Homo sapiens: one gene and its partners. The protein of the gene in region 1 purifies or fractionates together with the protein of each later gene. This does not show direct contact. Each region holds a gene or a part of one and is shown on either strand. Other genes may lie near its edges.

Evidence for each region.
Region 2: the proteins of SCLY (region 1) and KYAT1 fractionate together in Homo sapiens (co-fractionation; one large-scale study listed by BioGRID). This does not show direct contact.
Region 3: the proteins of SCLY (region 1) and UBFD1 fractionate together in Homo sapiens (co-fractionation; one large-scale study listed by BioGRID). This does not show direct contact.
Region 4: the proteins of SCLY (region 1) and RNPEP fractionate together in Homo sapiens (co-fractionation; one large-scale study listed by BioGRID). This does not show direct contact.
Region 5: the proteins of SCLY (region 1) and WDR1 fractionate together in Homo sapiens (co-fractionation; one large-scale study listed by BioGRID). This does not show direct contact.

The regions. Positions count from the first base shown.
Region 1 is NC_000002.12:238,090,593-238,096,586, forward strand, and holds part of SCLY (selenocysteine lyase), read left to right. Parts: intron 1-625; coding exon 626-662; intron 663-3,268; coding exon 3,269-3,352; intron 3,353-3,827; coding exon 3,828-3,930; intron 3,931-5,994. UniProt on the Homo sapiens protein: Catalyzes the decomposition of L-selenocysteine to L-alanine and elemental selenium.
Region 2 is NC_000009.12:128,839,285-128,845,278, reverse strand, and holds part of KYAT1 (kynurenine--oxoglutarate transaminase 1), read left to right. Parts: intron 1-2,118; exon of another isoform or gene 2,119-2,477; coding exon 2,478-2,625; intron 2,626-5,994. Other genes in the region: KYAT1-SPOUT1 (uncharacterized protein LOC127739546), read left to right, coding at 2,478-2,625. UniProt on the Homo sapiens protein: Catalyzes the irreversible transamination of the L-tryptophan metabolite L-kynurenine to form kynurenic acid (KA), an intermediate in the tryptophan catabolic pathway which is also a broad spectrum antagonist of the three ionotropic excitatory amino acid receptors among others.
Region 3 is NC_000016.10:23,566,847-23,572,840, forward strand, and holds part of UBFD1 (ubiquitin domain-containing protein UBFD1), read left to right. Parts: exon of another isoform or gene 1-134; intron 135-140; coding exon 141-223; exon of another isoform or gene 224-224; intron 225-3,633; coding exon 3,634-3,744; coding exon of another isoform or gene 3,745-3,785; 3' UTR 3,786-5,994. UniProt on the Homo sapiens protein: May play a role as NF-kappa-B regulator.
Region 4 is NC_000001.11:201,991,702-201,997,695, forward strand, and holds part of RNPEP (aminopeptidase B), read left to right. Parts: intron 1-4,445; coding exon 4,446-4,562; exon of another isoform or gene 4,563-4,708; intron 4,709-5,617; coding exon 5,618-5,853; intron 5,854-5,994. UniProt on the Homo sapiens protein: Exopeptidase which selectively removes arginine and/or lysine residues from the N-terminus of several peptide substrates including Arg(0)-Leu-enkephalin, Arg(0)-Met-enkephalin and Arg(-1)-Lys(0)-somatostatin-14.
Region 5 is NC_000004.12:10,081,387-10,087,380, reverse strand, and holds part of WDR1 (WD repeat-containing protein 1), read left to right. Parts: intron 1-2,850; coding exon 2,851-2,938; intron 2,939-4,202; coding exon 4,203-4,359; intron 4,360-5,936; coding exon 5,937-5,994.

The DNA of each region.
Region 1 (5,994 bases):
TCCACTGCACTCCAGCCTGGGCAACAGAACGAGACCCCATCTAAAAAAAAATTAAGAAATTAATTATTAAGTTAATTTTTTTTTCCTGAAAATAGGGTAATGAGTTCTGTTTTTCGGTTTGTTAGGTCAGAGTATGCAAGCCATTGTCTTTAGGGGTCTCTTGCCCATCTCCTGTGTGTGTGCACACCCACACGCGCTTGCACACATACACACACACACACACCCCTCTTGTTTGCTGATGCCTGAAATGTTGAGAACAAAGGGTTCTCCCCTGTTCCATACTATACTGATTTGGCAGTGAGGACTAAAGAGAGCTGTGCCTTGGGGCCTACAGGAGGCAGAGTGCTTGCTTTGGGTAGGAAAAGGGTCCAGATAGAACTGTCACAGTGAACACCCAACACATCACCCACAGTGGGCCTCGTTGACCTTCACTGGGCCAGGGCAAGTGAAAACTTGGCAGGGGAGGTTTCTGGGGCCTGCAGCTGCCATTGAGATAGCCACATGGCGCGTGCTTAGGAAAGATGTAGCGTGAGTTTGATTTTATTTTAACACAATGACTTTCATGGAGACAGGATTCCTTCCTGAGACATTTGTTTATTCTTGCTTAATCCCTTGTTTCTTACAGGACAGAGAACACCCCAATGATTGCTGGCCTTGGGAAGGTGAGCCCTGGTGAGCTTGAGGAGATGAGTTGATTGCTTTGTCATCAGTGTCCCCAGCGGCTCTAGTAGGAATCTGGGGCTTTAGGGAGATCATATTCGTGATCTCATAAGCGGACTGACAAGAAAAAGCCTGGAATCTGATTTATCAACCTGGAGAGCTGTACTTTTTCAGATCTGTGGATTAGTGGCACTTGTTTAGCATTTAAAAGGGAAAAACTCCTTGTCTGTGTCTCTTCTGACATGAGAAACAGTGATACTGTTACAGCAGAGGTGAAGTGTCAAGCTGCAGGTTCACCATTCCCAAAGGCGTCGGCAGCCCCCGCACCATCGACGTTCTGTCCCCGATTGGTCTGTGGGGTGGCCAATCCAGCACCTGCCACCAGCCCTCCACTGGGGCCTGTCCTGCTTCTGCGACAGTAACCAGGCTCAGGTTTTGCCGTGCGAAGGCAGAGGTACTGGTTACACCTCGGCGTCTGCAGGCTGCTCCCTCACTGTGCGGCCTCTGGTCAAAGGCCACCACCTTCAAGCAACCCTCCATGAACCACAGCTACATTGGTTCCCCCATGTCCCCTGCTGTCACCCTCTATCCCTGACACTGCTTTATTTCCCCTATCTGATGTTTCTCTGTAGTGTGTTCAGATGTATGCCCCACCTTCTGCTTCCCCGAGAGCAGGGGCTTGGCCATGTCGGCCTCAGTATCCCCAGTACAGAGAAAGGGCTTAGCGCCCAGGAGGCCGGGCCTTGGGAAGAGTATGAATGGATTCCCTGTTACTTAGAATATTCAAAATTATATTATTAACAGTGATAACTGTGGCTACATTTACTAGAAGGAAGAGTGTGTGTTTGTTTGAGATGGAGTCTCACTCTGTCACCCAGGCTGGAGTGCAGTGGCACGACCTTGGCTCACTGCAGCCTCCATCTCCCGGGTTCAAGAGATTCTCCCACTTCAGTCTCCAAGTAGTTGGAACCACAGGCATGCGCCACCATGCCTGGCTAATTTTTGTATTTTTAGTAGAGACAGGGTTTCACCATGTTGTCCAGCTGGTCTCGAACTCCTAACCTCAGGTGATCCACCCGCCTTGGCCTCCCAAAGTGCTGGGATTACAGGCATGAGCCACCACGCCCAGCCGGAAGAGTGTGTTTTAAGTGGAGTCCGGTACCTGCTCGTATTGACCTGAGTGATGAAGTAGTGGTGCCGTCCACAGGCTTTGAAATACCCAGGGTTCAAATCCTGGCTTGAAGCTTCACTCACCGTGTGCCTTGGGTCAGGTCGCTGGAACTCCCTGAGTCCTGGCTGCCAGATGGGAATCACGGTAACAGCTTCCTAGGTAGAGCTTCAGCTCACAGTGCTGGAAGCCCCCCAGCCCCTGACCTTCTCCGTGCTCCTGCAGCTGCATCTGCACCTGTAATGGCACAAGTGCCACAGCTGGGTCCCAGCCACAGCACCACACCCCCACTGGTTCTTCAGCTTCGCCCAGCCCAGACCCCAATGCCACCAGCGCTCTAGACAGCCCCCCTCCGCCACCCAGCCTAGACTCCATCCTGCACACGCCCTCCCCAGCGTGCTTTCCCTCACCCATTCCTTTCTGCCTTGGTTGCGTGCTGGCAGCCCTGCACCTGAGCCCTTGTGGGTCCGTCTGTCCTGTCACTGTGATGCTAGCTTGTGCTCCTGCCTTTAAACTTGACATCTCAGCTAGGCCCTGGCCCATGTCCTGAGAGATCCATTCCTCTGAGTTCAAAACCTGTCCCGACTGCTCTCCTCCAACCCTCTTCCCACCCTGGGCACCTCTTGCTATCCAGGTTCTCACCTCTGAAGTCCGGGGGATGCCCTCAGTCCCTCCTTGTCATCGTCCCCTGCCTCCAATGCAGCACCTTCCTGTCTGTCTGGATTCCAGAATACACCCACTACCGGCCTCATGTCCATTTTCATGGCCACCAACCCTAGACCAAGGGTCTGGATGCCTGCCATGGCCTCCTGGGGGCCTGCTGCTGCCATTTTCCACACGGCCACAGAATGACCAACAGACAGGCCAGTCAGACCATCGCATCCCTCCCTCAGCCTCACTGCGTCTGCCCCGTGGCCGGGCCTGCAGGGCCTGTCGATCTGTCCCTGCGCCTTCACCCCCTCCACACTCTCCACCCGCCACGCCAGGCCCCTCTGTTCTAGAGACAGAATGTCTGTCTGTCCCCTGCAAAGCCCTTGCTGGGACGCCATTCCCTGCCCTTGTACAGCCATCTCTGTCACCACCCCACCTTGGGCCTGCGAGGTGCCTTCACAGCGCCAACTGGTGGGTAGGAGTCTGTTCCCCTCTTCCCCTGCTTTTGTCCGTCTGCCTCTCTGGGATGCTGGCTCCTCGAGGGAGCCCTTTCAGGGCTGCTTTGCTGAGGCATCTCCAGTGCCTGGTGCTGTCAGGAGGTACCTGGTGAAGTCAGTTTCTGGGGCACTTCCACACCCTCCAAATGGCAGCACTCAAAAAATATGGTCTGTCTGTGACTGTCAGGAGAATGAGCAGTTTCAGGAAATGCCACCTGTACCGTTGAAAGCTTTTTGGCCCTCCTTTATTTTGCAAGAATTGTGCATCCACTTGTTGTGTGTCTGCCCCCAGGCCGCGGAGCTGGTGACCCAGAACTGCGAGGCTTATGAGGCCCACATGAGGGACGTCCGCGACTACCTGGAAGAGAGGCTGGAAGTGAGCGCAGCGTGGGGTGGGCACCAGGAGGGGGAGGGTGCGTGGGGCAGGTGCCCAGAGAGGAGGGGTGTGGTGCTCCCAGACCCCAGGACCTGTGGGGATTGCAGCGTAGCCTGGAACTCAGCAGGATGCAGTGAGGGAAGAAAGAACAGTGGCAGAAAGTACATTGGGATCTGAAACCCCGAAAGCAGGACCCTAGGCCAGGGGCATGATCTTTTTCAGAGACACAGGATCAAATATGCAGAGGTGGTATACCTCATGGTTTATGTGGAAGGTTCATATGTTTCTGAATATTTGGTTTTTCTCCTAATTAACTTTGCTTTCCATAGTCCGTCCCCGTAACTATTCTGGGTAGATGCTGATTGAAAAGTATGCACCTGCTGAAGTTGTGTTTCTGGAAAAGTCTAAATTTCAAACAGTTGCTGGTGGTGGTGTCTTTGAAGCTGTCACCAAATATTTCACTTATTTTTTTCAGGCTGAATTCGGTCAGAAGAGAATCCATCTGAATAGCCAGTTTCCAGGCACCCAGCGGCTTCCCAATACCTGTAACTTTTCCATCCGGGGACCCCGGCTTCAAGGTGATGGCCCCTCACCCTGGTCTTTCCGAGTGTGAGCACAGCTCCCTCGGTGCGTGGATTCTGGTCCGAGCCAGTGACTCCCACTCGCCCTGCCCTGAGCATGACACAGCTCGGGCTGTCAGAGGGCCTTGCTGGGGTTGCCAAGAGCAGGCTCGGGTGGCTGTGCTGTGGTCCACAGGGCTCTCGCCGCTGGCCCCTCCTCTCCCTGACGTGGCTCATTTTGCTGCTGCTGGGATGTGGACTGTGGCAAACTCTCGTGTCTGGCATTAGCGCCACCCCAAAAGCCGTCAGGGAAGGAAGCAACATTAAATTCTAGACATTTGTCTATTTTGTTGGCAGTTTTAATTAAATATTTGAGTGAGGGAAAGGGGAGGTGATCAGTTTTAAAAACTGGCAGAGGCTGGGCACAGTGGCTCGTGCCTGTAATCCTAGCACTTTTGGAGGCTGAGGCAGGCTGATCACAAGGTCAAGAGATTGAGTCCAGCCTGGCCAACATGGAGAAACCCCATCTCTACCAAAAACTACAAAAAATTAGCCAGGCATAGTGGTGTGCACCTGTAGTCCCAGCTACTTGGGAGGCTGAGGCAGGAGAATTGCTTGAACCTGGAGGTTGCAGTGAGCCATAATTGAGCCACTGCACTCCAGCTTGGGTGACAGAGTGAGTGAGACTCTGTCTCAAACAAACAAAAAACAACAAAAATAACTGGCAGAGTAAGGATCAAGTGCAAATCTGGATTTCCTGCAACATCTGCCTCGGCTAGGAGCAGTTAGGATCACCCCCGTCCCAGATGCACCTAAAACCTGGTCTGCCCTGACTCCCTGAGAGTGGAAGTCCAGGTGATTGACCAGCCGCATGTCATTTGGGAGGAGGTTATAGTGGCCCTGAGATCACGATGAGCTGCATCTGTAAACAAGTTTTTGACTTCTTAGAAGATGAAAGTGTTGCTTCTTTCTTCTTCCTGGATCACGCAGAGAAACCCAGCAGTCGTGTTTGGCCCATGAAGAAGAACCCGTGGGTAACCGTCATGATGGCTGCGTTCATGAGAACCTGGGCTGAAATGCGTTCTTGTGGGCAGTGAAGCCTGGGTCTCCTTGACCATCTCAAATTCCTCACCATGGAAAGGAGAGTTCTCTGTCAACGTTCCCCTTGTTCTGGGGTCAGACTTTGTGTTCAGTGACAACCTGTGTTACTTTAAATGAGACAGAGGTTCTCATTTTATTTATTTATTTTTTGATTCAGGGTCTCACTCTGTCGTCACCCAGGCTGGAGTGCTGTGGCGCAATCACAGCCCACTGTAGCCTTGACCTTCTGGGTTCAAGTGATCCTCCTGCCTCAGCCTCCCTAGTAGCTGGGACTACAGGCATGCACCACCACACCTGGATAACTTTTTTTTTTTTTTTTGAGATGGAGTTTCACTCTTATTGCCCAGGCTTGAGTACAGTGGTATGATCTCGGCTCACCACAACCTCCACCTCCTGGGTTCAAGCGATTCTCCTGCCTCAGCGTCCAGAGTAGCTGGGATTACAGGTGCCTGCCACCACGCTGGGCTAATTTTTGTATTTTAAGTAGACACGGGGTGTTGCCATGTTGGCAAGGCTGGTCTCGAACTCCTGACCTCAGGCGATCCACCCACCTTGGCCCCCCAAAGTGCTGGGATTACAGGCATGAGCCACTATGCCCGGCCTTGGCTAATTTTTAAAAAATATTTTGTAGAGATAGGGTTTCCCTGTGTTGCCCAGGCTGGTCTCAAACTCCTGGCTCAAGCAGTCCTTCTACCTTGGCCTCCCAAAGTGCTGGGATTACAGGTGTAAGCCACTGCACCTGGCTGAAATTCTCAGGTTAATTACATCAGCAGTCATTAATGGCTGTGCTTGTGAAAGAAGAGGGAAATGCCTTCTGGCTTAATAGAACTCCCACGTGTCTCTACCATCCAGAACACAGGTGGAGACGTGATATTGCCGGGGCTGCCAGCTTGTAAGGAAGGAGCGGGTCAGGACTCCAGGTGTCTTAGCAGGCAGTTGATTACAAATGCGATTTTCAAGGCCAGCTTTGTGAGGCAGAAT
Region 2 (5,994 bases), on another chromosome or scaffold:
CTCAGTAGTACTCCAGATGGTGGCGGTACACAGACTGCCAGATTCCAGCCATAGCTCAGGAGAGACAGGGCCCGAGGGAGTAGGCTTGGTTCAAATCTCAGCTTTCTTCTGCATGACTGTGCCACTAGGACAGGTGACATACCTGCTCTGAGCCTCATCTCCCCAGCTGCAAAATGAAGAGTTATACCCACCTGGAGAGCGTTGGGGAGGAAAAAGTAAAATGCTGTCCAAAGCCATTCTACCCAGGCACCAAGCTAAGGCCTTTCCAGGGATGACTCTTTCTCACTTGGTATAGAGTCAGATAAACTAAGATAAGTAAAATAAGCAAGTAAGATACAGTCAGCTCTTCACCAGACATTTGCAGAGGTTGATATTGTTTTCTTTTTTGACTTGTTTTATTTTCATTTTATTTTTGAGACGGAGTTTTGCCCTTGTCGCCCAGGCTGGAGTGCAATGGTGCGGTCTCGGCTCACTGCAACCTCTGCCTCCTGGGTTCAAATGATTCTCCTGCTTCAGCCTCCAAGTAGCTGGGATTACAGGCGTGCAACACAACGCCCAGCTAATTTTTTTTCTTTTTCTTTTCCCCCGCAAGACAGAATCTTACTCTGTCACCCAGGCTGGAGTGCAGTGGCATGATCTCGGCTCACTGCAACCTCCCCCTCACAGGTTCAAGCAATTCTCCTGCCTCAGCCTCCCAAGTAGCTGGGATTACAGGCGTGCGCCACCACGCCCAGCTAATTTTTTTTTTTTTTTTGTATTTTTAGTAGAGATGAGATTTCACCATGTTTGCCAGGCTGGTCTCGAACTCCTGACCTCGTGATCCACCCGCCTCAGCCTCCCAAAGTACTGGGATTACAGGCATGAGCCACTGTGCCTGGCCCTAATTTTTATATCTTTAGAGAAAATGGGGTTTCAGCATGTTGTCCAGGCTGGTCTCAAACTCCTGACCTCAAGGGATCTGCCCTCCTCGGCCTTCCAAAGTGCTGGGGAATACAGGCATAAGCCACCGGGCCCAGCCAAAAATGACACATTTTAGACATATTTATTGGTATGCAAATTCAACTCAGCCAGGTCTTCACTCTGCTCCAAACTAGCCCCAAACCACATACCAGCCTCTTCATCCAGCTTCCCAGCCTTTCTCCCACCTGGAGAGGTGGCCCCCAGGCAGGGCCAGAACAGAGGATTATGGGTCCAGAGATGATGTGTGCCTGGGCTGGTGGGGCCCTGTTCTGCCCAGAGTAGGGTCAAGAGCATCAAACTTTGCTTGAGATGGAAGTAGAAAGGCTGGCTGGCTGTGCCTTGTACTAGCTGGGAGGCTTTAGGCAAGTCACTCCACTCCTTATCCCCACAGTGGTCCAGGAACAAGATGTGCCTCACAGGCCATTGTGAAGGCTATATGAGCAGAGCGTTTAACTGTGGTGTTGACGAATCCAAGGAGGAGTCATGCAATCTGTACAGGGGGTCTCAACTAGTATTTGGAAAGAATAGAGTAGGATAGGACAGGACAGAAAATACTGCAGTAGATTGCACCAAGAAGGATGAAGCTTCCATTCCATGTTTGTGCTCCACAGGGTTGATGATGCAAAGGTGATTTCTTGGCCGGTAGTGGTGGCTCACGCCTGTACTGCTAGCACTTTGAGAGGCCAAGGGGGGCGGTGGATCACCTGAGGTCAGGAGTTCGAGACCAGCCTGGCCAACATAGCAAAACCCCATCTGTACTAAAAATACAAAAATTAGCTGGGCGTGGTGGCGGGTGCCTGTAATCCCAGCTACTCAGGAGGCTGAGGCATGAGAATCGCTTGACCTCGGGAGGCGGAGGTTGCAGTGAGTTGAGATTGCACCACTGCACTCCAGCCTAGGGGATAGAGCGAAACTCTGTCAAAAAAAAAAAAAAAAGATGATTTCTTCCTATGGGTCATGGTGGAAGAACTTGGAAAGCCCCTGGGCTGATTCCTGCGATTAACAATGTGCCTGACTGACCTAATCTCAATGTAGGGGACCAGCTGTGACACTTAGGCAGATCTTCAGGCCAGGACAGTTGCTGATTGTCTAGTTTTTGTTTTTCTTGTGTGTGTATGTGTGTGTTTTTTGTTTTTTGTTTTTGTTTTTTTAAGACAGAATCTCACTCTTGTTATCCAGGCTGCAGTGCAATGGTGCGATCTCGGCTCACTTCAACCTCCGGTTCCCGGGTTCAAGTGATTCTTCTGCCTCAGCCTTCCAAGTAGCTGGGATTACAGGCCCCTGCCACCATGCCTGACTAACTTTTGTATTTTTAGTGAAGACAGAGTTTCACCATGTTGGCCAGGCTGGTCTCAAACTCCTGACCTCAGGTGATCCGCCCACCTCGGCCTCCCAAAGTGCTGGGATTACAGGCGTGAGCCACCACACCTGGCCGGTTGTCCAGTTTTTCTAAACAGGCCGAAGTCCAGGTCACCATGGAGGGCTGGGCTGGTGCTGATTCTCCATTTGTTACCCAGGGTGGAGTTTGTGAAACTGGCCAGTGAGCATGACGTCGTGAACTTGGGCCAGGGCTTCCCGGATTTCCCACCACCAGACTTTGCCGTGGAAGCCTTTCAGCACGCTGTCAGTGGAGACTTCATGCTTAACCAGTACACCAAGACATTTGTGAGTCTCCCCATCTCTCGTGGAGGCACTGGGGGAGGAAGGGGACAGGGCTTTCTGGACTTCAAGCCCACACAGCTGTCAGGCTTCAGGGGACAGAGCCAGGGGATTCTGTATGACCATAGTTCAGTGTTTACTGAGCGTATCCTCTGTCCCAGAGCCTTCGCCTCGTGGTCTAGTGGGGATGGCAGACAAGAAGCCAGTAACGACAGGCAGTTGATACATGATGTGATGGAGGAGGATGGGATATCGTGCGAGTAAGAAAGAGGGAATGAAACCTGGGGAGGGGGCTGGAGAGATGCACGAAGACTTCCTGGAGGAGGTGACACTTAAACCAAGTCCTGAAAGATGAGCTACTGGTTGGATTACACAATAAATCCAAACGTTTTCCGGAAAGGACCACATAGTAAATATGTGACACTGCTTGGATTAGAACAGTGGTTCTTTTTTTCTTTTTCTTTTTTGAGACAAGGTCTCACTCTGTTATCCAGGCTGGAGTGCAATGGTGCGATCATGGTCCACTGCAGCCTTGACCCTGCCAGTCTCAAGTGGTCCTCCCACCTCAGCCTCTGGAGTAACTGGGACTACAGGTGTGCATCACCATGCCCAGCTAATTTTATTTATATATTTATTTATTTATTTTTGAGTCAGGGTCTCACTCCTGTCACCTAGGCTAGAGTGTAGTGACATGATCACGGCTCACTGCAGCCTGTACCTCATGGGGCTCACATGATATGCCATTTCCTGGGGCTCATGTGATCCTCCCACCTCAGCCTCTAGAGTTGCTGGGACAACAGGGGCATGCCACCTCACCCAGCTAATTTAGAGACAGGGTTTCACCATGTTGCTCAGACTGGTCTGAAACTCCTGGGCTCAAGTGATCCTGCCACCTCGGCCTCCAAAAGTGCTGGGATTACAGGCGTGAGCCACTGAACCCTCATTCTTTTTTTTTTTTTTTTTTTGAGATGGAGTCTCCCTCTGTCGCCAGGCTGGAGTGCAGGGGCGCAATCTCGGCTCACTGCAACCTCCCCCTCCCAGGTTCAAGAGATTCTCCTGCCTCAGCCTCCCGAGTAGCTGGGACTATAGGGGTGCGCCCCCACGCCCAGCTAATTTTTGTTTTGTTTTTTTTTTAAGACAGTCTCGCACTGTCGCCCCGGCTGGAGTCTGGAGTGCAGCGGCACGATCTCGGCTCACTGCAACCTCCGCCTCCGCCTCCGCCTCCGCCTCCTGGGTTCAAGCCATTCTCCTGCCTCAGCCTCTTGAGTAGTTGGGATTACAGGCGCCCGCCACCATGCCCAGCTAATTTTTGTATTTTTAGTAGAGACGGGGTTTCACCATGTTGGCCAGGCTGGTCTCAAACTCCCGACCTCGTGATTCGCCTGCCTCGGCCTCCCAAAGTGCTGGGATTACAGGCGTGAGCCACCGCACCTGGCCATTTTTTGTATTTTTAGTGGATACTGGGTTTCACCATGTTAGTCCGGTTGGTCTCGATCTCTTGACCTCGTGATCCACCCACCTCAGCCTCCCAGAGTGCTGGGATTACAGGCGTGAGCCACCGCACCCGACCGCACTCGTTCTTTTTAATGGCTGCATACTGTTCTGTTGCCTGGATGTGCCATAATTTATTTAAGCAGTTCTGCACTGATGGACTGCTTCTGCTATCTCAATATCATAAGCAATGCCACAGCAAATATCCCTGTGTGGACATCTTTGTATACATATGTATTTCTCTAAGATAAATTCCTGGAGGTAAAACTAGCAAAAGAAAGACTATAAATATTTATAAATACAATAGGTGGATATTGTTAAGAAACAGTGTGTGCCTATAATCCCAGCTACTTGGGAGTCTGAGGCAGGAAGATTGTTTGAGCCCAGGAGTTTGAGGCCAGTGCAACATAGTGAGATCCTGTCTGAAAAATAAACAAACAACTAAGTAAATAATTGCCCTCCAGTAAGGTTTACTCATTTACATCCCTGCCAATAGGCTGGTCTCAGAGCTGGTTGGAAAGTTCCTTCTTTGATCCAAAAAAAAAAAAAATCATTTGGGTATGTATCTTTTTCTTTTCTTTCTTTCTTTCTTTTTTTTTTCTTTTAACTAGAGACAAAAGCTGGGTATGGTGGCTCACGCCTATAATCCCAGCATTCTGGGAGGCTAAGGCTGGCAGATCACCTGAGGTCAGGAGTTCAAGACCAGCCTGCCCAACATGGTGAGATCCCATCTCTAATAAAAATTAGCTGGGCGTGGTGGTGGGTGCCTGTAATCCCAACTACTTGGGAGGCTGAGGCACAAGAATCGCTTGAACCCGGGAGGCGGAGGTTGCAGTGGGCCGAGGTGGTGCCATTGCACTCCAGCCTGGGTGACAACAACAACAACAACAACAAAATAGAGACAGGGTCTCCTTATGTTACCCAGGCTGGTCTCAAACTCCTGGGCTCAAGCAATCCTCCCACCTTAGCCTCCCAAAGTGCTGGGTTACAGGCATGAGCCACTGTGCCCAGCCTCATTAAATATTTTACCTCTTTCTTGTATGTTGCAATATTTTTCTCTTCCTGTTTTGACCTTGCTCATGGTGCCTTTTATTTTTATTTAATTAATTAATTTATTGTCTAAGACAGAGTCTCAGTTTTATTACCCAGACTGGTGTGATCATAACTCACTTCAGCCTTGATCTCCTGGGCTCAAGCAATCCTCCTGCCTCAGCCTCCCGAGTACCTGGGACTACAGGCACGTGATACTACACCTGGATAATTTTTTTGATTTTCCATCAGTAGAGACAGAGTCCCTCTGTGTTGCCCAGGCTGTTCTCAAACTCCTGGCCTCAAGCAACCCTCCCGCCTCATACTCCCAAATGCTAGGATTACAGGCGTGAGCCACGGTGCCTGGCCTGTGCCTCTTGTTGTACAGAAAATTTTTATATTTGTGTGGCCAAATCTGGTTTAGTGAGTTACTGAGTTGAGTTCTAGATAAAGTTTCAATCACTTGGCTTAGCCTTGAGTATTTTTGTTTTGTTTTGTTTGTTTTTGTTTTTTTTGAGACGGAGTCTCGCTCTGTCGCCCAGGCTGGAGTGCAGTGGCGCGATCTCGGCTCACTGCAAGCTCCGCCTCCCGGGTTCACGCCATTCTTCTGCCTCAGCCTCCCGAGTAGAGCTGGGACTACAGGTGCCCGCCACCATGCCAGCTAATTTTTTGTATTTTTAGTAGAGACGGGGTTTCACCTTGAGTATTTTATAAGTGTCCTCAGCAAACAAGTTTCTGGATCTAATCTTCCTCTCAAAAAGGGGTGCTTACAAAGCTGCAACATGAGGTTCCTGACTGTCAACTGTGTGTGACTTTAGACAAGTAATTTCTTCTCTCTGGGTCTCTATTTTTCTA
Region 3 (5,994 bases), on another chromosome or scaffold:
TTGTCCCCAGAGGGCATGGCGCCAGTCACTTGAGTTTACTGTAGATCCCGCAGCCACCAGCCCTGATGAGGGACTGCTGAGTCAGAGAAGTTAGAACAGGAGGGCCCTTTGAATAATCACTGTAATCCCTCTCAACTTAGAGCGGACTGAGAAATTGCCCATGGGCTCCATAAAAAATGTGGTCAGTGAACCTATCGAAGGACATGAAGACTACCACATGATGGTAAGTAGCGCTGGCTGAGTTCAGCCCCTCTCACTAGACTCCCACTTCACCTGGCAGGGAACAGTTTTAACTGAGCTTGTTTAACGGAAGAAAACTCAGTCTCCAGAAGATGCACTTTTTTAAGACCCTGATGTTTTCTTCATCTACTTAGAACTTAATCCATGGCCTCTATTCCTAGTTCTGTTTATTTTACACCCCCCCACACACACCTTCCATCAGTTTAAAGGGGATATGTTTTCTCTTACCTCTTTTAGAAAAGTCTCTCTTGCCTCCCTCTTGTCGTGTGTTGTTTCTAGACCAGGAAAATAAATATAAAGAGGAGGAATGGCTTGTGGATTTTCATTATAAGTTTTATCTTGCTTATAAAACAAAACTTGCCCTTAGCCTTGGTGTTGGTGAGGGCACCAGACAGCCTCTTTTCTGTAATAACGATGCCGCTCTTCCAGGCCCAGTGGCTGAGGGCCTCGTGGGGAAGACGGGCTCTGTGGAGCGTCTATTCTGCATAGAACCCACTCTGCAGAGAGCAGGCTACTCTTTCCCAAGACAGAATGTTTGGAGGTGTTGTGCAGGTCTGCAGAACAAAGCAAAAAATTCATTCATCTGGTAAAATGAGCAGCTTAGGCAGTTTCCAAAATTTTCCCAGTGCTCTTTGGAGGAGCCACATTGACCACGAAGTTGATTCTGCAGTTGCCCATCAGGGGCCTGGCCTGAGCAGCTGTAATGTGAGGGCGGGGCCTCCGGCCATTGTTCATCCAAGGAGGCAGGCCTTTCAGTGTCCATCCCACAGTGATGAAGCCACATCAGCCCATCCCAGGGAAAAGAAGGAACTAGTGGTTTGACCAGTAGATTGGGATAACAAGTCCCAGGCAGAGAGATGTGTTGGAAGATCCTCTTGCTATAGAAAAAAATCAAAGGGGCTTAAAATATGGTGGGCAAGGGAGGCAGCCCTGTTGGCATCCTGCCTAGTGTGGCTGTAGCAAGGCTGTAGCTGGGAGTGCAGTCCCTAGGCTGTGGGGCTCTTGGGGTTTTGTCTTCTGGAAGTGATGATGCCCCTTGGCAGCCCTTCCACCCCTACTCTCTCTGTAGTCTTTTTTTTTTTTTTTTTTTTTGAGACGGAATCTCGCTCTGTCACCAGGCTGAAGTGCAGTGGCGCTATCTCGGCTCACTGCAGCCTCTGCCTCCCAGGTTCAGGCGATTCTCCTGCCTCTGCCTCCTGAGTAGCAGGGATTACAGGCTCACGCCACCACACCCAGCTAATTTTTGTATTTTTAGTAGAGATGGGGTTTCACCATGTTGGCCAAGATGGTCTCAATCTCTTGACCTGGCGATCCGCCCACCTCAGCCTCCCAAAGTGCTGGGGTTACAGGCGTGAGCCTCCATGCCCAGCCCTCTCTCTGTAGTCTTTATTACAAGGATTGCAGACAAATTGGTTTGGCCTGGTCAGTTATTTTTTTCTGTTTTAACAGTTGGGCCAGGCGTGGTGGCTCATGCCTGTAATCCCAGCACTTTGGGAGGCTGAGGTGGGCGGATCATGAGGTCAGGAGTTTGAGACCAGCCTGACCAACATGGTGAAGCCCCGTCTCTACTAAAATTACAAAGATTAGCTGGGCGTGGTGGCGGGCACCTGTAATCCCAGCTACTCAGGAGGCTGAGGCAGGAGAACTGCTTGAATTGCTTGAACCTGGGAGGCGAAGGTTGTAGTGAGCAGAGATCGTGCCACTACACTCCAGCCTAGGTGACAGAGACTCTGTCTCAAAAAACAAACAAAAAAACAAAACAAAAAAAAACAGTTGGACTTGAATGTTTTTAACTGGGCCCCATCACTCCTTTTTGAATAGTTTGTGTTGCCAGTCACACCCTGTAGGGTTTGTAGCCTGACTTTTCAAGCAGTGTGGTGGTAGGGAGTCCAAGGAAGTTGAGTGGACTGTTTTGGACGTCTTTGGAGGAATTGGTGTGGATGGGTAATGACTTAGTATTTCATTGAAATGTTCATTTCTCTCGAGTTATTTCTGGCAGAGGATAGCTCTAGTAGTCCCCTTCTCTTTTCCAAACACCTTTACCTTTGTCCTAATGAAAGTACTTAGTTATCTCTTTGGGCAGATGCTATTTCTCTAGCTAAATTAACATGTCATCATTCACAGTTGGAAAACTGTGGCTGTGCTTTTTCATTTTTAGAGAAATGTTTTTAAAATACAGAAAAGAGGCTGGGCGCAGTGGCTCACACCTGTAATCCCAGCACTTTGGGAGGCCGAGGTGGGTGAGTCACTTGAGGTCAGGAGTTTAAGACCAGCCTGGCCAACATGGTGAAACCCTGTCTCTACTGAAAATACAAATATTTAGCTGGGCATGGTGGCGCGCACCTGTAATCCCAGCTACTTGGGAGGCTAAGGGAGGAGAATCGCTTGAAAGTGGGAGGCGGAGGTTGCAGTGAGCTGAGATTGCACCGCTGCACTCCAGCCTGGGCAACAGAGAGAGACTCCAGCTCAGAAAAAATAAAAATAAAATACAGAAAAGAAAGAGAATAACTGTCACAAACCCATATATCCATCACTGAGAAGTGGCAATTGTAAATATTTTGTAATTTGCTTTAATTTTTTTAAATAAAAGAAATAAAGTTTATTCACAGCAATGATGGCCCCACTGTCTTCCCCTCCCCCATTACCATCGTCATGTGTCACGTGCGTCCTTCCCATCTATCCATTCTTTGATTTACACGTGTATCCACGAACAAGATGGAGTGTTGTTTTGTGCTTCCAGTTTTCGTAAATGGTATTATGTATTGTTCTACAACTTGCTTTTCTTTGGTTCAACATAAGAATCTGTCAGTATTAACTGTAGATCCATATGGACCCAGTTGATACCTCTTTAAAAAGAGCTCCAGTATTGGTGTGACTAAGCCTTGTCACTTTGAATTCTGCATTCCCTTACTGATGGATATGTAGGTTGCCCCAGGTTTTTGTGGTTTCAGACAGTGCTGCAATGAACATTCATACCTGTTTTCTTGAGCATGTGTGACAGGTTTTCTAGGGCAGCGTTTCTCCAACTGTGGTCCCTGGATCAGTAGTGTTGCATCACCTGGGAGCTTGCTAGTTTCTCAGGCCCCACCCCAGACCTCCCCAAATTAGAAACTTCACAGGGTTGGAGCCTGCTGATCCATGTTCCAGCAAGCCCCCCGGATGGCTCTGATGACCACTCAGGTTTGAGAACTGCTGCTTTAGGGTTGGCTCAGCTTAACCCTCAGCCTGCCTGTTTTTGTTTTTGGTTGGGAGAATGCTCCCCACGTGCAAAGTTTTGTTTGGTTTTTCTTCCCTTTTTAATTAACTCACATCCCAACCCTCACCCATGTTTGTCCTGCCTGCTTGGTCTCCCGACCTCTGAAGTACCGCTTGGTTTTCCTTTTTCCCTTCCAGGCGTTTCAGTTGGGCCCCACGGAAGCCTCTTACTACTGGGTGTACTGGGTTCCAACTCAATATGTGGATGCAATCAAAGACACTGTGCTGGGGAAATGGCAGTATTTTTGAAAGCACTTTCACCTCTGGCCCAGGAGACTGACCCAAAGTGAAGGACATTGCCGGGAGAGGCCTGCAGCATCCCTGGATTTCAGAGTTCTGGAACTTTGTTCATAAAAAATCTATATTCAATCTGAGGTGATGTGGTGACTGAAGCCAGAGGTGATGTACTTTCACCATTAGCTTAATTTTAACTTAAAATTACCAGTTCCCTTTCTTGCAGTCAGCTTCATACCATTTTTAAAGTCAATACGATGGAAATCAATAAATCTGAATTCCGAACATGTTGTGTGGAATACTCTTAAGTGTGTTTGAGAGTAGATCTGCCAATTATGTTGACAAGGGAATGATCAAAAGCTTTGTTTTTTTTAAAAAAAAAAAAAGCAGTTTCAATTGAAATATTTTCATACATCTTTGGTTGCAAACATTTGGACTGCATTGCAATGAGTTGGGGTGTTTTTTTTTTCCTTTTTTGTATAAAATTGTATGCAAAATGGGGGTGGGTTAGTAAGCCACATATTTCTGTCCATTGATTCAGATTTAATTCTTTCCCTTTTTCATTCTCTCGCTTCCTCAATTTGAGTTTTTGTTTTAAGAACCCAAAGATGTCAGTTCTTCTTTTGGTACCTCATCAACGCTTCCTTTCCTGGGCTCCCTCCCGCCGTGCTGCTGCTGCCTGTGAACGCACGGTGGGAGAGGAAGAGCTGCTCAGTCTTGGGCAAGGAGCTCTCACACTTGCTGTGGTGTTCGTTGAGCAGCAGAGTATCTCCCAGTGACTCCTGTTTAAATGTCTTGCCCTTTGGGCCCCCATCTCCAAGGAGTTCCATTGCTGGTTGGATGATTGTCTGCACCCCTCACTGAGCTTGGCCTAGAGGCCCAGCCTGGCATGGTTGTGCCTGGGCTGTGCCGCTCAACAGCCCCAGCTCCCAAGCAGACAAAGACCTCTTCCAGGAGGAGCCAGGTAGAAGATAGTTATACAGCCATATAGCTGCAGATCCAGATAACCTTCTTTCTTTGGAAGTTTTCAAGAAATTCTTAAGCAGTCCAAGGATGATTTCAATTATGCTTCTCCATTGGGTCCTTCTGCTCATGCATTCAGTTCAAGTGTCCTTTATCCCAGGTTCAGAGATGCTGCCTTTCTGAAGAAGACATCTGACCCTAGCAGGTTGGCCAGTGTTATTGAACAACAAAAATGGGATAAATTGCTTTCATGATTAGCTCACCTTCTTCTGGTTTTAGCCCTTCTGTTCTCTGTACACGTGAACTTCTGTCATCTCCTTCTGGCTTGGTTGCCTCTGAAAGGAGGGAAAGTCTCTTGGTAAATTATCTCTTTTGTGCTGTTTGCTGTTTCTCTGCTGCCGTCTTTGCAGTTCTCCTCTCACTGGTTGCAGGCTTTCATAGTAAGGTTTGGCGAGAAATGTTCCAAACATCACATTTTGGATTCTAGGCTGTCACCCCTCATTCTGTGAAACGTATTAGCATGTGTTCGCCCAAGATGACTATTCCTTGTGAGCCAGTTAATGATGATATTCTACGCCCTTCCCTTCTAAGCTGTAGTTCAGGAATCCAGCCCACATAGACAGACTCTTGCTTTCCATGGTGTAGTCAATGCCAAGTGATGCATCTAGGCAGGAAAATCTACTCTTTGCTTTTTTGGGGGCAATTAGTACATTTGTGAAGTGCAGCATCCAAGAAACAGCCTGTTTTTTCATCCCTTGAGAAAGGAGCAGTCATTGCAGCTTTTCTGTCCTTGTCGGCCTGCAGTTCCTGGGGAAAAGAGTACATCTGAGCTACTTGTCCAAGCCTCTGTCTGCAGGTGACAGGTTTTGGGGGAAATGAGATGCATTAAGTAGAACATCATCTCGGGTCAGACATTGCCCCTTTTGTTTGCCAATGCCCCAGTCCTAGAGACTTGTCCTGACAGTGCCGCACACCTACTTTTGATCTCTCAGAGCAGGTGGCTCCATCCCCAGACTAGCCTGGCTGCTCTCCGAGGCCCCTCCACCTGCTCCCCTTATTGCCCCATTCTTGTGGCTTGCCGGGCCACTTGGCCTCCCTTCTTGCCGGTGACAGCGTTCCATCATCTCCCCGCTCCCCAAGGGCCAACTGCTTCTCACTCAGGCTGGTGTCATTTCAGGAGGACCAAAGCCTGCGTGAGCCTTTTTATTTTCAGTAAAATGGTGCTTTTTTCCTTACTTCGAGATACTATATATAAATAATAATGTAAATGACACCTTTTCGTACGGAGCTGTTTGAGTATTG
Region 4 (5,994 bases), on another chromosome or scaffold:
TATACTACAGGTAGTGAGATTGCAGCTTGACTGAGAGCATCCTGATTTATTTTGACAGAAATGTGTGTCCTGGTGGAGGTATCTTGGATGACTGTCTTAAACCTTCTAGTTGTAACAAGCTGAAGTCCACTGGGCTGAAGGACTGTGGTAATTTTGACATCCAAGGTGGTGGTAGAACAATTCACAAAGTAATTCCTTGAAGATACTGACTGCCGTCCCATGATCTTTTTCTGTCTGGTTTCCTGTCACATCATCTTTGGCGACTTTTCTCTCCTAACACCCAGGGTTGAGGGTGGCTGCAGGGTTTCTTGTGCCTTTCTCCCTCCCTCCCTCCCTCCCTCTTTCTTTCTTTTCTTGCCTCGCTCTCTTGCCCAGGCTGGAATGCAGTGGCACAATAACAGCCCATTGAACCTCAAGCTACCAGGCTCAAGCAGTCCTCCCACTTCAGTCTCCAGAGTAGCTGGGACCACAGCTACTCTGTCACCATGCCCAGTTAATTTTATTTATTTTCTGCAGGAGCAAGGTCTTGCTATGTTGTCCAGGCTGATCTTGAACTCCTGGGCTCAAGAGATCCTCCCACCTCGGCCTCCCAAAGTGTTGGGATTGCAGGCATGAGCCACAACACCAACCTTCAGGGTTTCTTGACCTCTACTCAGGGAGCCTTCTCCACTCTGTCAGCCACCCATATTCACACCCATGCTCTGGAGTCTAGAGCCTAGACATCGTCATTGTCATGAACTGTACCATATCTGAACTTTTAAGGCCCTTGAGCCCCTTGTCCTCATTCATCCTGACTCTGCTAACCTTCCAGCTCTCTGACGGCCTCTCTCCCACTATATTCCACCATGTCTCCTCCTTGAGCTCATGGCAGCCTCCCTTCCGGCAAGCCACTCATTTCTCCTGGGCAGTCAAGACCCTCCTGACTGGGCTTCCCTCCCTGGCCCAAGTGTGTGGTTGGTTACCTCTTACCAACACCCCAAAGCCCCTTGCCCACTTCCCGCTGCTATAATGTCCCAGTCCCTTGTTATACAATTCCTTTTCTCTACTTCTATAAGTGGGTATTTGGGAGATGTAGAAAATAGTGAAACTACACAGTAATAACCACTACACCTTTCTCAATTCTTCGTGAAAAGTTGGAATTAAAGGAAAGTTGAAATAGACATGTGTGGGGTTTTCCAGAAAAATGTAACAGATGTACAGTCTTCAACTGCAGGTGTGCTTTCAAGGTTGTTCAACAGTCCTCTTATTTACCTTTCCATCTCACTCCCTTTAAGCTGTTCTAAGACTTTACTCTTCTCTTTAAGTTTGCTATCCAATCCCATCCCCTCATTTAAGCAGAAGGTCTTGTCTCCTGTTTTATTGAGAATATTAAATTCATCAGATATGATTATGTCAGTTTCCTGTCCTCCACTTAAAAAGTTATCTTCATCTGCTTTTATCCTTCCGGACTGCAACAAAGGTCCTTCCTTCTGTTTAAAGCCAAATCTCTTCCCTTACATGTCCTCTGGGACTTTGCCTCATCATTTACATCTCTCTCTTCAAATCTGCAGCCTCCCCCTCTAGACAAGCACCAGTTTCTCTAAGATCTATAGCAAAGCAAAAAACAAACTCAAGGCTGGGTGTGGTGGCTCACGCTTGTAATCCCAGCACTTTGGGAGGCCAAGGTGGGAGGATCACCAGAGGTCAGGAGTTTGAGACTAGCCTGGCCAACGTGGTGAAACCCCATCTCTCCTAAAAACACAAAAATCAGCCGGACATGGTGGTGCACACCTATAATCCCAGCTACTCAGGAGGCTGAGGCAGGAGAATCACTTGAACGTGGGAGGTGGAGGTTGCAGTGAGCCGAGATTGCACTACTGCACTCCAGCCTGGGTGACAAAGTGAGACTCCACCTCAAAAAAAAGCCAAAACAAAAAAAAAAAACAAACTCGGCCAGGTGCAGTGGCTCACGCCTGTAGTCCCAGCTACTTGGGAGGCTGAGGCAGGAGAATGGTGTGAACCCGGGAGGTGGAGCTTGCAGTGAGCCGAGATCGCGCCACTGCACTCCAGCCTGGGCAACAGAGCAAGACTCCGTCTCAACAAACAAACAAACAACTCAAAAAACCCTTAACTCCATATTCTCTTCTGGCACGACACACTGTCCTTCCCTCTGTAGCCAGGTGACTTCAGTGGCATGTATACGCACTGGCTGCACTTCTTGAAACCCCCCCACCCCACAATCATTTATTGCTACAACCCATTGGAATCCAGCCCCCCACCCTTGCCATGCCGTTGAAACTAGTAAGAGAGGCCATTCGCCTCAATACGGATAACATATGTGATGCTTTTTAGCCCTTGCCTTCATGTTCTGCTGTTTTTCTTCTGCCCCCATTGACCCTCCTCTGGCTTCTGTGACACCACCCATGCTGGTCATCAGGCCTCCTGGTTAGTCCTTTTCTCATCTCCTTCCCTGACTCCTCTGCCCAGCTCCTTGTGTGTCGATGTTGCCCAAGGCTCTGTCTTTGACCTGTTCTTTTCTTCTACATGCTTTCCTTGGAGAGCTCACCCATTCTTGTAGTTTAACATATTTTCTGTGTTCTGCAGCCAGGATGATATCTTAAAACTAAATCTGATAATGTCACTTGTTGGCTTAAAATGCTCCCATGGCTCTGAAGGTCCGGTTCTGTAACAGTGCACCTGAGGCTCTTCATGACCCGACCCTCTTGGGCATCTCATGTCCCACCTCCTGCCACTGCCTCCCTCATTGCAATCTGATCCTGTCCTCAAGTAATCCCAGACTCTCGGTGCTTCCTCACATGCATATGCAGTGTTCCATGGCTACGTCTTTGCTTTTGATATTTGGGAAGTACCTGATACTGGTTTCCCTGTATCTTTTCTTCCTGTTAGAATAGTTCCTATGCTTCAGCAAACGCAGAGGAAGTTTTCCCTCATCCGGGCCTGGACCCATCCCACTTTGCCATCAGTCTCTTTTTTTTTTTTTTTTGAAACAGAGTCTTACTCTGTCACCCAGGCTGGAGTGCGATGGTGCAATCTTGGCTCCCCGCAACCTCTGCCACCCAGGTTCAAGCGATTCTCCTGCCTCAGCCTCTCAGGTAGCTGGGATTACAGGCATACACTACCATGTCCTGCTAATTTTTTTTTTTTTTTTTTTTTTTTTTAGTAGAAACAGCCTTTCACCATGTTGGTCAGGCTGGTCTGGTACTCTTGACCTCAGGTGAACCACCCACTTCGGCCTACCGAAGTACTGGGATTACAGACATGAGCCACCAGGCCCAGCCAGTCTCATTCATATGTCTGTGTGGAAAAGCAGTTCTAAGCGCAGCCAGGGGCTCTTGGTCAAGCAGAGCCTTTGGCTGCAGGATCCCTGAGTCCATTGCATCTTTCCATTAGACTGGATCTTCTTGTTTTGTTTTTGTTTTTGTTTTTGTTTCCTCCAAGCCACCTTTGTTTCCCTATCTTTTTATTAAGAAAATTTCAAATATTTAGAAAATTGAAAGGATGATGCATTGAACACCTATAGAACCATCTACTTTGTCATATTAGTTTTATGAGTGGATTTGTTTTTATTTTTGCTAGACCATTTAAAAGCAAGTAAATCTGTGTGCCTCTCTGAAGAATAGAGGCATTCTCCCTTATAACCACAATCCCATTATTGTACCTAAGGCAGTTAACAAATTTCTATTAACATTAGTAGGTTTGGGTCGGACACAGTGGCTCATGCCTATAATCCCAGCACTTTGAGAGGCTGAGGCAGGTGAATCACTTGAGCCCAGGAGTTCAAGACCAGCCAGGGCAACATAGCGAAACCCTACCTCTACAAAAATAAAAAAATTAGCCAGGCATGATGATGTGCAACTGTAGTCCTAGCTACTGGGGTTGGGGAGCTGAGATGGAAGGATCACTTGAGCCCCAGGAGGTGGAGGTTGGATCACACCACTGTACTCTAGCCTGGGCAACAGAGCAAGAACCTGTCTTAAAAAAAAAATAAAAAAGGTTTGTCTCTTAAGGTTTTATTCAATTCCAGATTCTACTATTAGAACGCTTTCTTATCTCTCCTCTAAGTAGGGAGAAGAAAACTAACATTTACTGTATAAATGTTTGAAGGGCTTTTGTGTGTTGTCTTATTTAATCTTCACTCATTTTACAGATGAGGAAACTGAGGCTCACAGAGGTTAAATCACTTTTGCAAGATCGCATTCAGTAGTGAAGCCATAACTGCGTAGCACGGTTCCACCTCCATGAGGCTGTCTTGGGTTCTTGTTTCTCAGGTGTGGTGAGCGGTCTCTTGGATCTGTGTGGTGATCCGATCTTGCACTCCGTCACTGTGGCTGACTGCATTGTCACATTCACTTGGCGGAGGCCAATTTCCTACAGGTGCTTTCAGGATCAGGTCACTGCGATGGTCTCTAAACACCATTCTGCTTTCTCTGCTCTCTTGTCTTTAGGAGCCGGGTGTGGGCTGAGCCCTGCCTGATTGATGCTGCCAAGGAGGAGTACAACGGGGTGATAGAAGAATTTTTGGCAACAGGAGAGAAGCTTTTTGGACCTTATGTTTGGGGAAGGTGTGGTATCACATTGACTCTAGTGTCTCCTGTTAAACTGAGTCACTGGCTTCCATTCTTCCTCTTCGTGTGGCTTTTCCACCTCCTGCCTCCCAGAGCAAAGTTTCCCTGATCCCAGAAGTGAAGGAGAGGAGGAAGAGAGGAGGGTATGAGCCAGGCTTCTCACTGTTGCTGAGGAGAGGGCCTAGGAGATGAGGTTCTTTGTGTGTGTGTGTGTGTGTGTGTGTGTGTGTGTGTGTGTGTGTTTTGAGATGGAGTCTCGCTCTGTCACCCAGGCTGGAGGGCAGTGGCGTGATCTCAGCTCACTGCAACCTCCACCTCCCAGGTTCAAGCGATTCTCCTGCCTCAGCCTCCAGAGTAGCTGGGATTACAGACGCCCTCCACCACACTCAGCTAATTTTTGTATTTTTAGTAGAGACAGGGTTTCACCATGTTGGCCAGGCTGGTCTCGAACTCCTGACCTCAGGTGATCTGTCCACCTTGGTCCCAAAGTGCTGGGATTACAGGTGTGAGCCACCAGGCCCGGCAGAGAAGAGGTTCTTGAGGTGTTCAAAATGTGACCTGCAGTTGCCAAGTTTGAGATGGGGCAGCACCGTCAAGGTCCTTTGTTGACCTGTGTTTTCCCATTGCTGGAAGTTTCCCCACACTCTGTTTTTAACTTTGACATCTTCAGACTTTAGGCTCCTTAGATAAAAGGCTCCAGGTTGGTCTTTATGACCCCAAGTTGGCCTCCAGGGAACTCCATGTGATGGAGCTGATAATACATTTATCACCTCCACCCCTGCTTGGAAGGAGAGAGGGAAACAAATGCCTGGAGAGTGAGCTCCAGGAGAGCAGACACCACCTCGATGAGGGAAGTCCCAGCAAGGCAGGGGAGCCACGTGGGAGAAGCATTGAGGAGCCTGGGCTTTATTTTCCGCACTGGGCCCGAAGTCGTACTCTGCCTGTTTAGTGACTGCATCTGTTAGGGCTTGGAAATAGGCTGGAAAGGGAGGCGAGGTAGGGTCTGCTCCGGGAAGCCAGGGCCTCTTGGTGACCTCCCCGCTTCTCGGCAGGTATGACTTGCTCTTCATGCCACCGTCCTTTCCATTTGGAGGAATGGAGAACCCTTGTCTGACCTTTGTCACCCCCTGCCTGCTAGCTGGGGACCGCTCCTTGGCAGATGTCATCATCCATGAGATCTCCCACAGTTGGTTTGGGAACCTGGTCACCAACGCCAACTGGGGTGAATTCTGGCTCAATGAAGGTTTCACCATGTACGCCCAGAGGAGGATCTCCACCATCCTCTTTGGTAAAGTGCCCACCCCTCTCCTAAGGAGTCTGCCTCCCATTCTTAACCTGTGGGGCCAGTGTGATCTCCTTATGGGGTTTCAGAATACAAGTGGGTGTGAAGAGACGAGGCAGTAGTGTGTATCCAACATTTTTCTGTATG
Region 5 (5,994 bases), on another chromosome or scaffold:
TTGGGAGTGCACAGCCTGTGCTTTACCCGACTGCAGGCAAGAGCAGAAGCTCACTGAGCACCAGGGCAGGTGACGGGGCATCGCTGAGGTCCAGGGGCAGGAGGGAGGAGCAAGAGCAGGTGGCCTTGGGCCTGGGCCTTGGCGCTGCCTGGAGTTTGAATGTGGTGGGCAGGGTGTGAAGGAGATACTGGAGTTCCATAAGGGAGCGATGGGAGCAGGAGGAAACGGAGTTAGAATCATCCATGGGTCCCAGGTGTGAAGGCCCCAAATGCCAACCTGGGGAGGAGCAAGGTGCCTGCTTCTGAACCCTAACCCGGAAGGGTTCACTTGAGCCAAAGGCTCCCTGTGTTCCATTGGCTGGGGGGGTCCTGCCTTCTCCCTCCACCCACACCAGCCAAGTTGACGCCTCTGGGAATCTCGCAGCTGGACAGGAGCCAGAGCAGGGGTCCCTTCTGTATCCTCAGGTCCTCCTCTCACAGCAGCGCCCTCGCCTGCTTCCCACACTGCATCTGCTGGGAACTCCAAGTCAGGTTCCCCCAGCGCTGGTGGCCCAGGGTGGGTGACCCCTCCTGCTATTCTAAGCTGTAATATCAAGGCAGGTGGACAATGCACTTCATCCCAGCAGCCCTTCTCGGGCTCCTGCTTTAAGCCACTCGGGGAGACAAACCCTAGCACTTCCCTCACCCATTGCATCCTGCTGCCGTGGAGCTCTGGGGGACCAGCCTCTGCAGAGGGTCTGAACCCTGCAGGGCTAGTGTGGGCCAGCCTGGAGCAGCCCCCGGGCCTGTGCACTCGGCCCGTGCTGTGCTGTCAGTGGCTCCTTCACACCACGGCTTCTAGGAGGGGCTGCTAGAATCACCAAATCCATTCTACATGGGAGTTTGCCCACGAGGAAGGGGCCTCGTTAACGTTGTGTGTGTGACTCCTACGGACCAGGTCACCTCAACGCTCATGCATAGAGTCACGGTTCCTTTGTGCCGGGGCAGTGGGGGCAGCAGCACTGCTGAGAGGGGGAAGGCTGAACCATAAAGGTTCACTAGACGTGGCCTCGAGGATAGAGGGGAATCGGGAGCGCCTCCTTGCTGGGCTCACAGCCCAGGGTGATGAGTATAAAAAGGAAGGCACGCACAGCATGGGGCCGAGGAGGTTGTTGCCTGGGGGAGCTGAGGGCTCTTGTCGAGACCATGCTCCAGTGGGCCTCCAAGTGGGATGGTGAGAAATTGTACACGGGTGAGTAAGGCTTCGCTACTGCCCAGAAAAACAGTTTCCCATGAGCCATCCCCGACAGTGTTCTCCAGGTGTCAGCCCTCAGGTCTGCCGTCCCGTTTCTGTTGGCAGGGCTGCCCTGAGAGTGCTCTTCCTAATACCACTGCTGCCAACTGTCTGGGGCCAGTGCACCCGGCCTGCCACCGTGGCTAAACTTATGTCCCAAAAAAGCAACCAGCATCCCACCCTTCCACCAAAACCCCAAGGGCCAGTTGTCAAAACCCCCATGTCCCAACTCTCAAATGCCACACCTGTGTGAGTCACGCAGATGCTGATGTTCGGTGCTGATCTGGGCTGCAGTGGGATGGAGCAGCAGGTATCAGCCCAGGCTGCGTGTTAGAACCACCTGGGAGCTCTAAAAAGCGCTGGCTGCTGACGCCCCCAGAGGCACTAAGTTTACAGGGAAGTCTCAGGGCAGCAGGAGCTTGCAGGCCTCCAGAAGGAACACCCGTGGGCATCTGGGCATGGCTAGGAGTGTTTCTGGTAAGTTCAAGGCATTGAGCCTGCACACAAGTCTCTTGGCCTCTTGCCGAGTGCACGTTCTGATTTGGCAGGAAGGTGGGCCTGAGCCCTGCTGGTGGGGGCTGTGCTGGTCTGAGGTCCGCGCTGTAAGGGACTGGTGGGATGCCACATTGGAAGGAGGCCGCCCAGCTCAGTGTCTCTTACTGGGGCATGTGATGATTTTTCCCCACGTCTCTGTGGAAAAGATGAAAGTAGCTGCATTCGTTGCCCATTCTCCAGTCCCACTGGTAACTGTGTACCTGTCTCCAAGGAGACCTGCATCCAAAGATCTATGCCATATTGTGGCAACATGTGGCATACCACAGAGATCAAGAATTCCTGCGGAAAAGCCCTGAGCTCAGAGGAGAGGGGCCAGCCAGGAGCTGGCCTCCCTTTGCAGGAGAAAGGCATGAGGAGCCTGCACCCTAGCTGTTATTTTTGTCTCAGGCTCAGATATGGAGGGGGCTAAACGCCGCCCTCTGGAAGCAGCTGTCTGGTTGTGGACCAGCCTTGTGTGCCCTCCACTGCAGCAGTCAGGGAGGTTAGGGTAGGAGCGTCAGCGTTCACGGACAGCCTTGGGCTTTTACAGTGATCAGAGAGACCCCTGCCCTCAGCAGGGCCAGCACTCCTGGGCAGGGAGAGAGAAGAAACCTCACAAACCAGGGCCTGAAGCGAATGTGGCCAGCGAAGTCCTCCTGGACCGACCCCCTTGTGGCTCCCCGCGACGGGTGCTGGTCGGCGGGGTGCAGGCCACGTGTCTGCACACGTTAGGTGCTCAGGTGCTGACGTGCTGGGCCTTGGTTAGACGCAGGTCTGGGCCCAGGTCTGGGTTAGGTACCTTGGAGGGAGGGGAATGAAGGGCAGGGTCTGTAGGTGACTGGGTAGCTTTGGAAAGGTTTCTTAGGGCTCGTGGGCCGTGCATTCGGGCAGCTGGGGCTACTGGGGCCTCAGAGCACCTGCACTGCCATGGATTGAGGGGCGTCTGCCCCCTCCATTACCCAGAAGCTTCGTTGGTGGAAAGCGGGTGGCAGAGGGCAGGGCAGTGTGTCATCAGCTTACCCGCCCAGTGTGTCTCCTTCACAGGGTCACAGTAAATCGATCCAGTGTCTGACGGTGCATAAAAACGGCGGCAAGTCCTACATTTACTCTGGGAGCCACGACGGACACATTAATATCCTTTGACTCAAAGAGCTGGCTCCGGAGCCGCTGGCTCTAGGGGGGAATTTCCTGTTCCCATGATGCCAGAGGCCAGGCCAGCCAGGTGGCTCCAGCTGCAGCCACAGCCACACGCTCTTCTGACCCGTGTGGCTTCTAGGGGTGGCCTGTCTGTACATGGGGACAGGCAACTGTCCCCTGGAGTTGTCCTTGGCAACTCCAGGGCTTATGCTGAGGAAAAGCCATGGGCGGCTCCGACCTGATCAGTCCCTTCTTGTCGTGCAACCCTGAGAGTGTGGCTTAACGGCCCTGAGCTTGGGCTGCCACTACCTCTGCCAATGGCACCTGGCGCCAGCCTTGGCCCTACTCCACATGGTGGGTTTCTTGATTCCTAGAATTCACAAGCACCTGGACACCCTTACGTTGGGTCCCCTTGTTTTAAAAATAGGAAAACCAGAGCCCAGAGAGCTGATGTGCCCGCCCCAGAGTCATGCAGCCTGTGGTCCACAGAGCCAGGGCTGGAGCTCCTGCGAGGTGCCTTGTGGCCCTTCGGTGATGTTCCCTGGAGGTGTTTGTGTCCCCCTTATAAGTCCTTGTCTGGGTTTCTTTAAATGAGTCCTGGTTTCTCCCTGATGATGGGGGCTTCTGTTGTGTTTTTCCTGCATGGCCTGGGGCTGGTGACACCCTGCTCACGGGTGTGTCTTGAACCTTGGAGCCACCATCTGCAGAGTGCCTGGGCAGGGATGCCCACACACGTTGCTGATGATGGCACCTGCTGTGCGTTGTTCTGCTGCCCTCCCTGAGCACCGTGCTGTGTTGGAGACTGCCTTTTGTGTGGACAGCTCTGGTCCGCATGTGCTGTACCTCCCAAAGGGACTGTCCGGGACCCAAGGAGGTCCCCCCAGGCTGGGAGAGGAGGGCAGACATGCCACCCTCTGCCCCCAAAACATAAAGAAATGTGGGGTTAGAGGGTTGCGCCTACCCGATAACTAGTAGCAGAGGAGACGCCGGAGCCTCCCCAGCTTGCTGGTCCCCAGTAGGCCTTCAGCACGGCTCCCTTTCTGCCTCATCCCAATCCCTGTGTGGTGCACCCACACTTCAGATACCCCTTCCTAAGAACGTGTCAACAGTGGACACTGCAGGCTTCCCAGGGGGAATGGTTATGTCCGTTTGCGGCGAGATTCTCATTCTTGATGTAAATGGAGAATCTTAGGACTGAAGCCACACCTGAGAACACCCAGCAGTCCTGGGAGCCGGGCTTTTCCTTAACCCCACCCTACATTACTGGGATTCAGAGACGGGGGAGAACGACTCCTTCGCTGGGAAAGGCCACACGAACCAGGTGTCCAGGATGACCGTGGATGAGTCGGGGCAGCTCATCAGCTGCAGCATGGACGACACCGTGCGGTACACCAGCCTCATGCTGCGGGACTACAGGTGAGAGCACTCGGGTCTGCGGGGGTTCCGGATGAGCCTCAGCTCCCCTCGGAGGGCTTGTGCCCTCCAGCAGTTACTGTTCTGGAGGACGCCTCACTTGCTCCTTTCATCTCTCCCACCCCGTCCCCAGCATTGTTCTCCTGTTGTTGGGCCCTGAGCCCAGCACTGTGTTACAGATCCAGGTGGTCTGGGTAATGCTCTTGCCCACAGACAACGACCAGGTGTGGACTCTGCCCTGGAAGCAGGGGCAGCAGATCACAGCCCTGTTCTCCAGGAACCTGCTGCGGTCTCTCCCTGTGTCCCTTTCCTCATCAGTAAAGGCGGGTACAGTGGAGCCTGCCTCAGGCTGTTGTGGATTAGGTGAGCCTGGCACAGGGCAGGTGCTGAGTACAAGACAGCATTCCCCTTCTGCTCAAGGGTGAGATGGGCACACAGTGATCTGGTTAAAAGACAATGTCTTGTTTGTTTTTGGTCTTGGGCCTTTGATTGGCAGTCAGTGGAGCTAGGAGAGTAGCAGTTTGCAAGTGATCTGAAGTCCTAAATGCAGTTGGAGGGACTTGAAAGAGAAATGTTCCAGGACCTGACGAGGCCACTGCACATCCAGTGTCCCCATGCCCAGGTCTGACCCCTCCTCTGGCCCTACATTTCTTGTGTAGACCCCTTTGTCACCCGGTAGTCCTGCCTAAGTCGTGTTGCCTGGGAGATGGGGACTCCTGGGGCCTGTTGATGGGAGCCTGGCACAGGGTGCAGCACGCAACTCCTAGCAGGTGTGCCGTCCTTGTAGGTAACACAGGCCCTGCCTGCCTGGCAGACTGGGCATCTGTAGGTAAATTGGGCCTCCCGATGAGTGGCAGAAGCGGCCCCAGAGCCCAGGCATCTGGGCCCTGGTCCTCTTTCTACTGCCCTGTGGTGACCCCACTCTTAACACGTCCCATAAAAGGGTCTTCCCTGGGCCAGATAACCCAAGGCAAGGCCCTTACAGAGCCAGCCTTGGCCTGGTGACCTTGCTGCAGAGCCTTTGGGGATGCCACACTTGGCCGAGTGACACAGAAATTTCCTTGATTATCTCAGTTTTCAAGAAGTTTGTGTGTATGAGTCTTTCTAGAACAAGTTTTGATAGCATTGGCCAAGGCTAAAAATAACATGATTTTCACCCATTAAAGGTAACGGATTCTTAAAAGTTACCCATCCATTTTGGGGAGCAGAGCTCAATTCTGTCTGTGCTCAGTAAACTCCAGTCTTTAGCCAACAGACAGGGGGACAAAAGCCACATCTGGGTGTAATGAGGGCTTACCACAGATAAATAGGAGCATAATCAACGCCTTTCACCGCCTCCCGCCCCTCCTTCCCCCCCCCCCACCCCTCCCCGGGCCCCCATTATGACTTATAATCTCTTTGCACCAGAGTCATGGATCGTTTTTTCGCTACCATCCCATATTTTAGCAAGTCTCTCCAGTATAGGTGGCAATAGAATTGCCTTCTAAGGAGCAAAACTGTGGTTTAACAGTAAATATGTATGCATACCTACCCTGAGCTGCTGCATTGTCGAAGTAATGTGCTTCCTTTCTCTCTAACAGCGGACAAGGAGTTGTGAAACTGGACGTTCAGCCAAAGTGCGTAGCCGTCGGCCCCGGG